Regions from separate parts of the Homo sapiens genome. Here region 1 is linked to region 2. Evidence: fine-mapped expression QTL. Tissue or cell type: tibial artery. Region 2 holds a variant in brackets; the other region holds the start of a gene. All regions are shown on one strand. Distances are from middle to middle.

Region 1 (5,750 bases), 64 kb after region 2:
AGTTGCCGCTCCTCCTAATTAAAGTTAAAAAAAAAAAAAGTCCGAAAACTTTTCAACTTTTGCAGGACTCTTATCAGAATCCCAATTCTTGGGAAATCCTCCGCTCATTATGGAAGAGGGTTAGTGATAACAGAGAATTTCTACAAAGGTTGGGTCATTTTTCAAGGCTGCATACACGATGCTAGATATTATCACTTGAAAGTTTTACATTTCTTCACACCTCGAGTGCTTGGCCCAACACACACTGCTGGAAGTTTTCCACAGAGCTCTCCATCTGGCCAGCTCAGGCTTCAGAGAGGCAAAAAGCCTCTGTAAACCAGGGAAACTTGGTACATCCCACAAGACAATCCGAACTGGCTCCTGGTCCGGGGACTTGTGGGACGCAGTCCTGAATCATGCCTTACAGTAACTTACACTTTACCAAAATCTTTAATAACCAGTATCTCATTCCCTGCTTACAAAAGAATAGCCCAGTGAGACTGGTAAAGATGACTAGCCCAATTTTAAAACCAGGGAAATAAATAAGCTTTTAAAATGTAAAAGTAAAAATACAGATAAATAAAAGATTTAGGCCGGGAGTGTTGGCTCACGCCTGTAATCCCAGCACTTTGGGAGGCCGAGGTGGGCGGATCACATGAGGTCAGGAGTTCGAGACCAGCCTGGCCAACGTGGCGAAATCCCGTCTCTACTAAAAATACAAAGATTAGCCGGGCGTGGTGGATGGCGTGCGCCTGTAATCCCAGCTACTCCGGAGGCTGAGGCAGGAGAATCGCTTGAACCCAGGAGGCGGAGGTTTCGGTGAGCCGAGATCGTGCCACTGCACTCTAGCCTGGGTGACAGAGACTCCGTCTCAAAAAAATAAATAAATAAAAAATTTAAAAGTTTAGGTGCGCTTCCCCAACACAATCACTTGTCCCAAAAACAAGCACCGAACAAGTACCATTCAGAAGCAAATTGTAGTCCCTTTTGATGTTCATTTAAATACAGATGAAAACTTAATTATCAATGCTAACTCAATCACTGCTGTGCCAGATTCAGCATAAGATTTTGTCAGCACCTAAAATTCTGTATCTAGAGCTACAAGAGGCACGTTTTCTGCCAAATCTTCGTTATATTACATAATGAGAGGAAGCTTGGATTCTTAAAATTCACCTTTTCCCATCATTTTAACACCCTGTTCCAATCCCTTCTTTCACAGGATATTTTCTGGAGGTGAAAAGGAATAACTCATTACTTCTCATATTTTCCTGCCCACTTTCTTGCATAAATATTAAAAATAAAGGGGAAGGTAGGGTCCTGAACATCTCCCTAAAAGATAAAAAAGTTATTAAATGTGGTAAACAGAGCCTGGAGACCTAGCTTCTAGTTCTGCACTGACACAGTATCACTGCGTGACCTTGGGCAAATTACTGCAGTTCTGGGCCTCAGTTTCCCTCATCTGAACCCTAATGATGGTTAAGCCCTCTCCGCTCTTAAAGCACAGATTTTAGATACGTCCCCAGGGAAGCACAACTGTGAAGGAGTCGCCCAGACGGACTCCTTGGGCGGAGAAACGGCCTTCCACAAGCTCCGGCGGGGGGATTCACAGGGAGCTCAAGCTGCCCCAGGGAAAGCCACTGGGCAAACTTCAGGTCGCAAACAAAAACCTGTTGGCACCGACTCCTCTAGCAAAGGCCAGCCTCCCAACGCGCTCGGCTCTCGGCTCTAGGGGAGCCGCCCCACAGGGAGAGAGAGGAAGTCTCTCCTGGAAGAGGCCAGACCCCACGCACCCATTCACCCACCCGGATCAGCCGAGCAGGACCGCCGGGCCGGGTGGGTCTCTGCCATCCCACGCGGAACAAAAGGCAGCTGGAGCCTGGCTCTTCCGCCCCCGTCCCCGCTGTTCCGTGGGAGTGGGGGCTGGGGAGTGGGGAGCCTGGTCCCCAAGGACGGAAGGGGGCCCTGCTACAGCCCCCAGGAAAGGTGAGACGGGCGGGATCCCGGACAGAGATAAGGACCCCTCCCCCGATTCCCGGAGGGCGCCCGGACCGGGCTCTGCACGGGGGCTGGCGGGAGACCAGGCTGGGCTCAGGAGGAAGGGGCGCCGGGCTCGGGGAGAGGAGGAACGTGCTCTGGGGAGGGGGCGGGGTTGTTCCAAGATGAACGGGGCTCCAGGATCCGAGGTAGGAGTAAGGGGCGCCCTGGACTCTGGGGACATAAAAGGAGATGCTCGGTGATAGGGACGGGTAAGGGGGGAGATCCTTGCAGCGGAAAGCTGGATCCAGATGGGAAGGGGGCCATGCTCCAGTCCGTGGGGCGGGGCCTGGTTGGAAAGAAGGGGATCCCCCAGAGCCTGGCGTAGGGACCAGCGGGGCGGCAGGGGCGCATGCCCTGGCGGGGCTGGTGAGGTAGGGGAGCCTGTGCTCTGGGGGCGTCCGCGCCCTGGAGAGGGGGAGGGTCCTCGCCCCGGGGACTCGCTCTGGCCTTGGAGCCCCACGGGCTGTGGCTCACCTCTGCTCCTCCGGGCCGGCGTGGGTGCGCCGCTGCGGCCACCGGCAGCGCTCGAGAGGCGGGAGCGACCGTAGCCCGCGGAGCCGCCGCCACCGCCGCGTCTGGCTCAGTTTGACACCCACACACCAGCCAACATGGCGGCCGGGAGGGGGCGCGCCGGACGCGTGCGCGCGCCCTCAGGCCCCGCCCCCGAGGCCCCGAGGTCCCGCCCCCACGCCCGCAGACCACGCCCCTGCGACCCCGCCAGAGCCCCTCCCTAGTGGCCCCTGCGCGGCTTCCCCTCCGCCTCCTGCGCTCCAGGACCCCACGCGGACGACCCACCCTTCCGCAGCGCCCCACAGTCGACGCCCGAGCCCCCAAAAAACCCCCAATCCCGAGCGCCACACAAACCCTGGCAAATTAATACCCGAACGCGCGCACTCTAATCCCCTTCAGGCCACTCCACCCCGTACACACTCACGGCCCCCCCACACTCACGGCCGGGCAGCACGCGCAGACCCCGCCCCGTCAAGCAGAAACTCACGCTCCGGCCTGCCGGTTTCACTCAAAAACCTTGTTCAGTAGGAGAGACTGGAAGGGGGCCAGGGCCTGCCGGGCGCTGGTAGGGTTGGGTTCTTAGGCTACAAGTGTGTTCACTTTATGAAGATGCGCGGAAGTACACTTTGGATTTGTGCGCTTTTCCGTGCGTGTATTTCACGTCAATAAAATATACTCAAAAACGGAGAAGTCTCTAGGCTTCTTTAGGCTGCTCAAGGGGTTACCTAAGGGCACGAATGGCAAGGGGTTACCTACATGGCACGAAAACGGAAACCCTTGACTGGCGGGCACCCACAAAGCACCTCCTCTGTGCCAAGCCCTGTGCTGGGCACAGAAATGAGACAGCCCCAAATGCCTCGAATGAGAGTCCCGGAACTGGAGGGGCCAGAACTGGAGGCTGCACCTCAAAGCTGACTAACCTGCTCCAATCAGGGTGGGAGTCAGCAGAGACTTCTCACAGCAGGGGCGCGGAGCATGAGTCAGGGCTTGCTAGGTGGGCAGAGGGCACCATCCCTGTTGCCTGGGTGACATCAACACTCTGCCTAGCCTTGGCTTCAGGGAAGCTGTGGCCAGAAGTCTTCCTCTGCCCTAACTCACTGAGGGACCTTAAACAAGTCACTGTACTTCTCTGAGCCTCAGATTCCTCCTCCCTGTACAGGAACCAGGGGATGAAAGTATCCCTTAAGGTTCTAACAACCCAGGATCTGGAATTCCATTCTCTGGCAAAAAAAAAAAAGGTTGTATCTTTCCAGGAATTCATCTATTTATTGTAAGTTTTTTAGTGTGTGTGCATAGACGTGTTCATAATAGTTTTTGAGGGCTTTTTTGTGTTTGTATGGGGTCGGTGGTAATGTCCTCTTTGCCCTTTCTGATTATGTTTACTTGTATCTTCTCTTTTTTCTTTATTAGTCTAGCTAGTGATACAATAAATACGATAAAAATGGAGAGAGCTTGTAACACGTTTGCAAAACCACATAGCCACTTTTCCTTTGAAAAGTCAAACACTGGTAGCTCTAGATGCTAGAAACACTCTCCAGTTAACCACCCTTCCCACTGCTTGGTGCCCCTTCTCCACCAGCAGAGGGAATTATGCCCTATGTGCCTGCCTTGCAGCAGAAGCCGGAGCTCCCCGTTTTGAACTTGGTCCACCCTCATCCCAGAGAATGCCCTCAACCAGTCCAACATTCCTTGTGAGCCTCACCTCTTTACCCCATCTCCAAGGAAAGCAGAACTTTACACTGCAATCATGCTTCTGCCCTGAGTTTACAATGTCAGATGAGTTATAACACAGAGCTGATGCACAGCACGGGCGTGATGCTTCTAAATCAGCACTGTTCAGCAGAATTTCCCTCCACGATGGAAATGTTCTTTCTGCGTGCTGTCCGTAGGATAGCTACGAGTCACAGGAGGCCAGCGAGCACTTGAAATGTGGCTAGTGAGACTGAGGGGCTGAATTTTTTAAACTTCATTAAACTTTTATTAATTTAAATGTAAATAGCCATATGTGGCTAGATGCTACCATGCTGACCAGTGCTGGTCTAAAACCTTACCACAATTCCACAAGTGCACATTCTTTTTTTATTTATTTGTTTTGAGACGGAGTCTCACTCTATTGCCCAGGCTGAAATGCAATGGCACAATCTCAGCTCACTGCAACCTCCATCTCCCAGGTTCAAGTGATTCTCCTGCCTCAGCCTCCCACGTGGCTGGGATTACAGGCCCGCACCCCCACACCTGGCTAATTTTTGTATTTTTAGTAGAGACAGGGTTTCACCATGTTGGCCAGGCTGGTCTCGAACTCCTGACCTCGTGATCCTCCCGCCTCAGCCTCCCAAAGTGTTGGGATTACAGGTGTGAGCCACCGTGCCCAGCAAGGTGCACATTCTTGCTGTTCACATTTTACAGACAAGAAATTGAGGTTTGGAGATATGCTGGGGCTTGGCCACCCAGGCCCACTTTTCCATATGCAGAGCCTAATACTCCCTTCACTACCCACCTAGCAAGTGTGTGTAGCCGCACAGATAATATGCAAGCCTGGAAAGAGAACTGGATACAGATAATGAGATGATGAGCTAACCTACAGGACAGGAAGTGAGTTGGAGAATACCAGATTAGCCCAGGCTTGGGAAGTGGAGGAGGGTGTCCTGAGGCCGGAAGACCGCCACGTGCAAGGTCAGAGGGGACATTCTTGCATTCCTCAAAGTCATTTCTCTTTCCTGGACCCCCTCCTTGAAGCGTATCAGCCCCCTGGCATTCCTCTCTCAATTCATCCTCATGATGATCCCTTGACGTCAGCAGCCCTATTCCTATTTTAGATGCGGAAACTGAGGCAGCATGTGGCAGGGCTAGGATTCAATTCCAGGTTCTATGAGTCTAGAGCACATAAGCAGTCTTGCAGAGGAACTTGCAGGATAAGCTGAACAATTTCATCCGTGCCCAAAGCAGTCCATGGAAAACAGGGCTGGAGGAGACACTCTCATCTGCCCTTGCAGAGGTTTGGAGGTTGGTTCCAGGTGGATAATGGAGCAGACTGATGGGGGCCGGTTGGAGAGGTGTATTTCAGAAGAAAGAGCTGGCAGTGCAGGCCAGGGGTGTCTCTGGGGTTAGGGAAGGAGGGTTTCAAGCAGGAAGGGACTTTGGGGGAAAGACTGGCAGGCAGCAGACAGGGACAGACTGCATGCTGAATGAAAAGAATCACTTAGCACAGGTGCAGAACAGGCTCC
Region 2 (5,750 bases):
ATCATCCTGTGGTTCCAGGGGCCACTTCCTGAATCAGCAATGACCTTGGCTACTGAGGACGTTCCTGCCACTTCTCAACACAGGAGAGCCTCCAAGGCCCTTACTTTACCTCCTCGCAGGGAGATGCTGGGAAGGCTGCTTTTAGTCTAACGAGGCAAATTATAAAAAAGTTAAGTTCAGATTACACCAGGTTATTTATTTATTTATTTTTTGAGACGGAGTCTCACTCTGTCACCTAGACTGGAGTGCAATGGAGTGGTCTCAGATCACTTCAACCTCCACCTCCCGAGTTCAAGCGATTCTCCTGCCTCAGCCTCCTGAGTAGCTGGGACTACAGGCACGCACCACCACATCCAGCTAATTTTTGTATTTTTAGGAGAGACGGGATTTCACTATGTTGGCCAGGCTGGTCTTGAACTCCTAACCTCGTGATCTGCCTGCCTCGGCCTCCCAAACTGCTGGGATTACAGGCGTGAGCCACCCCACCCGGACTACACCAGGTAATATTTAACAGGAACATATATATATATGTGATGCAAAAGACAAAAAGGTGTATAATGAAAAATGCAATGAAGCATGACCACAGCCAGATCACTGTCCAGCCACAAGGTGGATGTGACTTTACAACACAGGGACAAACCACAAAGTTATTTTGTGCTGTGGCCAACGCTGGCACTATCGGTGGTGGGAGGGCTGCCTGTCAGGTGACGTCATACCCCCATCTATGACAGTCCCAGCAAAACGCTGATGTGCACAGAATCCAGACTCTAGCCGTGATTCCGGTTCTCAGGAAGCTCAGGGTGAGGGCCAGGCTGAGCATGGTGAGAGGCAGCAGACAGATCCAGGCCAGGGACAGACATCCCGAAGGAAGGCTGGCCCGGAGAAATGGAGAACGTGCTGCCATGACACAGACTGCAGGGACAGGATGGCCAGACTCAGCCTGGGGTCCTGGGGTGGACTCACATTAGGCTGATCAGCAGCAAGACACTTTCAGACAACTTGAAAAATGTGACCATGACCTCAGCGTGAGATGATGCTGCTAATTTCCCATTTTGTGAGGTGTGTGACTGTGTGTGTGACAGTGGCTGTGTGACTCTCCAGGAAGAGATGTGTACTGAAGCATTTAGGGGAGTAATGTGAGGATACCCACAACTTATTCTTAAATATTTCAGCATAAAAGGAAGTGAGAGCTACTCCTCTCATCCTGCCCCACTGCTCTCCCCAGAGGAAACAGCTGTTCACATTTTCTTGTGCTTCCACCCAGGAAAGCGACTGAACGCACACTCTGTGTGTGGATGCCTGTAGTGCGCTTCCGTCTCTGACACTCGCCCAGAGGGAACTCTTCCTCCCTGCCCTATGTGCTTCTCCCACCTGGGCCTGACCCCAGGCCGAGTGTCATCAGCCTGAGAGAGCAGCCCAGTGTGGCAGACGAGAGCACGGGCCCTCAAGTCCATGCCTGGGCTCAGATCTGGGCTCTGCCACTTCTTAATGCATGACCTTGGCCTAGGTCAGCTGTCCCCAACCTTTCTGGCACCAGACACTGGTTTAGTGGAAGACAATTTTTCCACGGCCAGGGGTGGGGTCGGGGATGGTTTCAGGATGATTCAAGCACATTACATTTATTGTGCACTTTATTTCTATTATTATTACATTGTAATATAGAATGAAATAATTCTACAACTCACCATAATATAGAATCAGTGGGAGCCCTGAGCTTGTTTCCTTGCAACTACACAGTTCCATCTGGGGGTGATGGGAAACACTGACCATCAGGCATTAGATTCTCATAAGGAGCATACAACCTAGATCCCTCACATGTGCAGTTCACAATAAGGTTTGCGCTCCTATGAGAATCTAATGCCACTGCTGATTTGACAGGAGGTGGAGCTCAGACAGTAATGCAAGTGATGGGGAGCGGCTATAAATACAGATGAAGCTTTGGGTCTGTGGCCCGGAGGTTGGGGACCCCTGGCCTAGGTGATTACCTTCTCAGTGCCTGTTTTCTCATCTGCAGAATGGGGACGGGAAACCGTCTCCCAGGGTTGTTGTGGGGAACGAACAAGAAGCGATGTGAAAATCACCCACTGCCTGTGCAACACTGTCTCTCGAGGAACCCTCCATCCATAAGGGGGTGCTGCCCCACTTACAGTCCAGGCTGAGGCCTAGGGGTGCAGTGACTGTCCCAAGGCCACCCAGCTGGGGCAGGTGGAGTCTGACCCTGAAGGTCTGGCTCTTCATTACCAACCCTTCCCACTGATGAGGACACCGGGGCCCAGAGAGGGTAAATGGCTGCGGCTCACAGCCGCCCAGGGGCAGGATGAGAACTCAGAGCCAAGACTCAGGACCTATGCCCCACGCTTGCTCCTAGCACCCTAAAGGGGCTTTGCACCCTCAGTCAGTTACATGCGCACACCCACACCAAGCAGGGCCTCCTCTAGGCCTGAGGAAAGTCCCTGTTCCCATGAGCTTGTGTTCTAGTAAGGAGAGACCATAAACAAATCTAAAAAGGAGGGACAGGGCAGGGCAGGGTGGGGAAGAGGAGAGCTTGCTCAGCTATGCTCTGACAGGAGGCGATGGCACAGAGCCCTGGAAGGAACGGCAAAAGGGCAGGGGCACTTCTGTTCTGAGAGCAGGGGACAGGCTCTGAGGCTAGTGTCAGCAGAGGCACCCAAGGGCACATGACCAAAGAGTGGTGGGGGTTCAGAAGCCGTCAGAGGTGCTTTGGAGAGTCTTAAGTGGGGCAGTGATGCCACTTGACTGGTCTAGGGAACTTGGGCCAGAAAAGTAGCTATGAAGGGGATGAGAAGTGGCCAGAGTCTGGACACATTTAATTGGGATCCTATGTATGACACCTGGTTCCTGAATCAGCTAGTGTGTCATGCTGCCACATGGTGTGGACTCAGCACTTACAGTGCCTTCTTCTGACCAGGGGTTATGGGCAGAACTGGGTCCCCCGTAAAGTAGGATGAAGAACATGACCTTATTTGTAAACAGGGTAGCTGCAGATGTAATTAGTGAAGATATAATTAGTGAAGATGAGGTCATACTGGAGCAAGATGGGCCCT[A/G]GAGTCAATAGAACTAGTGTCCTTAGAAGAGATAGAAACACAGACACACCAGGGGAGACTGCCATGGGACCATGGAGGCAGAGACTGGGGTGACACAGCAGCTAGCCAAGTAACACTGGGCCCTGCTCGCTTCCCATCCTCCCCCAGCACCTGCCACGCAGGCTCCTTCCTGCCTCGAGCCTTTGCTTGCCCGCTGCTCCCTCACACTGTGTATGCTGCTCGTGGTCCTCGAATGGGAAGGAGAACCGCATCCTCATCCCTAAGTATCAGCTCTAAGGCCACCTTCTCACTGCGCCTCCCCTGGCTGTGTTATCAGGCCAGTCTCTCATCAGACTGGGAGCTCCACAGGGCAGGGGGTCCATCCGTTTTGTTACTTAACACCTTGATACCTGGAGCTGGCCTTGGCGCACAGGGAGCACTTGGTGGATGTGGAGGCCAAAGCAGCTCCATCTTGGAGGCTAATTCACCATGCTGGCTTCTGATTAATCCCAGTTCCAGGAAGGCCTCCAAGATTGACAGTTTGCCGGGTGCCGGTGGCTCATGCCTGTAATCCCAGCACTTTGGGAGGCCAAGGCGGATGGATCACCTGAGGTCAGGAGTTCGAGACCAGCCTGACCAACATGGAGAAACCCCGTCTCTACTAAAAATACAAAATTAGCCAGGCGTGGTGACAGGCGCCTGTAATCCCAGCTACTTGGGAGGCTGAGGCAGGAGAATCGCCTGAACCCAGGAGGCGGAGGCTGCAGTGAGCCGAGATTGCACCACTGCACTCCAGCTTGGGCAACAAGAGCGACTCTGTCTCCAAAAAAAAAAAAAAAAAAAGATTTACAGTTTATTGTTTTTATGTAAGAGCACATACTTACCTTAAATCCTATCTTTAGGTCAAACTACCTTAATGTTATCATACTTCAAATATCCTACACATTCTTTCTGAACCACTCCTTCCCTATGGCATATAAGCCCTGGCTCTGGGGGCTAATGGCGTGGGATCTGACACCTTGTCTCACCACTTCCTGAGAGAAACATGGCTTCTGCTCCTAAGTCCCTGTTTCTTTCTAAGAAACTGGATTTGTCAGCCTCCTTCCTTGGCCCCTCCGCTTCTCCGGACATTGGGGGTAGATTTGCATAGACCTGCCCACCACGGAACCATGGGGCAGCTAGGTGGCACCTAGGCTGCAGCCCTGATCACCTGTAGCTGCATGTTCTAATCCGTTCAACTGCTTCCAGCCGGCCATCTGCCCAAGTGGGCGGAAAGCAGGGGCCACGTCAGCTTTACTTCTGGCACAAAGTAGGTGCTCAAACACCCATCAGATAATGGTCAAGTTTAGTTTCTGGTGAAAACAAATAATGGCTCTAACTTCTCCACTACCCCTCTGCAACACTGGTACCGCTGCCTCAGTTTACAGAGGAGGAAGCTGAAATACCAGGTGAAAAAAGGGAGAGCCCCAACAATGACCACGTTATGGCCCCAATGCAGGGCTGGTGAAAGAGGCAGGAGGGTAAAGCAGAGACAAAAGGCAGTCCATTCATTTGTCTGCATGAGTCAAATCCCATCCTCAGTCAGAAAAAAGCAAGTTGTGCCATTCTCTTCGGGCTGTTATTAAACTCTCTCCTACAGTAAGAGCACCAGCTTGTTGGGTGGGAAAGGAAGGACTTAGCCAAAACACTAAGCAGCTTTTTCTCACTGTCATTTACCTCAGGAGTCCCTGAGCTTCCTGCTGCTTCTGTCCATAGTGAAAGTAACAAAGCTACAGCCTGTCATTCTCTAGGTAGAGTGCTGGGGCAGGGGTCTCATCATGGCTGGGGACCAGCAGTAAGGAAAAGAGGACCTGCAGCCTCACCCTGAGCCACCCGCAGCTCTCCAGGCGTAAGCCAGGGTGGGAGGAGGGGTTCTGAAGCCCAGGCAGTGCCAGCTGAGGTGAGCGGGCACTTCAACAAAGATAATCATTTATCTCTTTTTTAATTCAATCATAAACTTCAAAGAAGTTAAATGCCTGCAACAATTTCTTAGAGTAATACTTATAAACAGGAAACTCATTTTTAAAATTAGTATTCTGATAGTAATTTTCATCTATTCAATTGGAAATAATCGATTACAAAATTATAGCACCTGCTGTGGGCTCAGGGGCTCCCAATTGAGCACTCTCCTTCACTGCTGGGGGGAAAGCATTTGTTTGGAAACAGTCTGTTTGGAAAACATTTGTCATGCTTCAAGAAACAGAATGTTCATACACTTTTCCCACTAATCTCACTTCTGGGAATTCCACATTGAAGAAATAATCCAAAGAATCCTTAAAAAAAGAAAAAAACAAGCTTTCTGTTCAAAGAAGTTTACCACAGCATTATTTACACTGGTGAAAATCTGAAACAAGTCTGATCATAAGAATTAACAGTGACAGGGCCACTTCTGGAGCATTTCTTGTGTGCAAGCTGGTATGTGAAGTGCATACATTATTAGCATATGTAACGTACACAATAACCCGGGAGAGAAGCACTATGGTTACGTCCATTTTACAAGTTACAACTTCTCCAAGTTAAATTAAGTAAGCTGCCAAAGGTTTAACCTTTAAAACTAAGTGTTGCTGGGCTCGGTAGCGGGTGTCTGTAGTCCCAAGCTACTCAAGAGGCTGAGATGGGAAGATCCCTTGTGCCCAGGAGTTTGAAGATACAGTGAGGTAGAATCAC

Evidence for each region. PIP is the estimated chance that this variant, and not a neighbour inherited with it, causes the effect.
Region 1: it holds the start of EPN2, and the variant in region 2 is fine-mapped to the expression of EPN2 in tibial artery (GTEx, PIP above 0.99).

Annotation. Positions count from the first base shown.
Region 1 is chr17:19,234,272-19,240,021 of GRCh38, reverse strand. It overlaps EPN2 (epsin 2), which reads right to left and starts at 2,656. Exons shown (of 11, transcript NM_014964.5): 1 at 2,491-2,656. RefSeq lists a silencer at 2,279-2,748.
Region 2 is chr17:19,298,565-19,304,314 of GRCh38, reverse strand. All of the region lies in intron 4 of EPN2 (epsin 2), which reads right to left. It overlaps EPN2-AS1 (EPN2 antisense RNA 1), which reads left to right. Exons shown (of 3, transcript NR_048576.1): 2 at 377-500. Among named protein-coding and RNA genes, the nearest start is that of EPN2-AS1, 4.8 kb to the left of the region's middle. RefSeq lists an enhancer at 1-119. The variant A/G (reference allele first, on the strand shown) is at 3,066.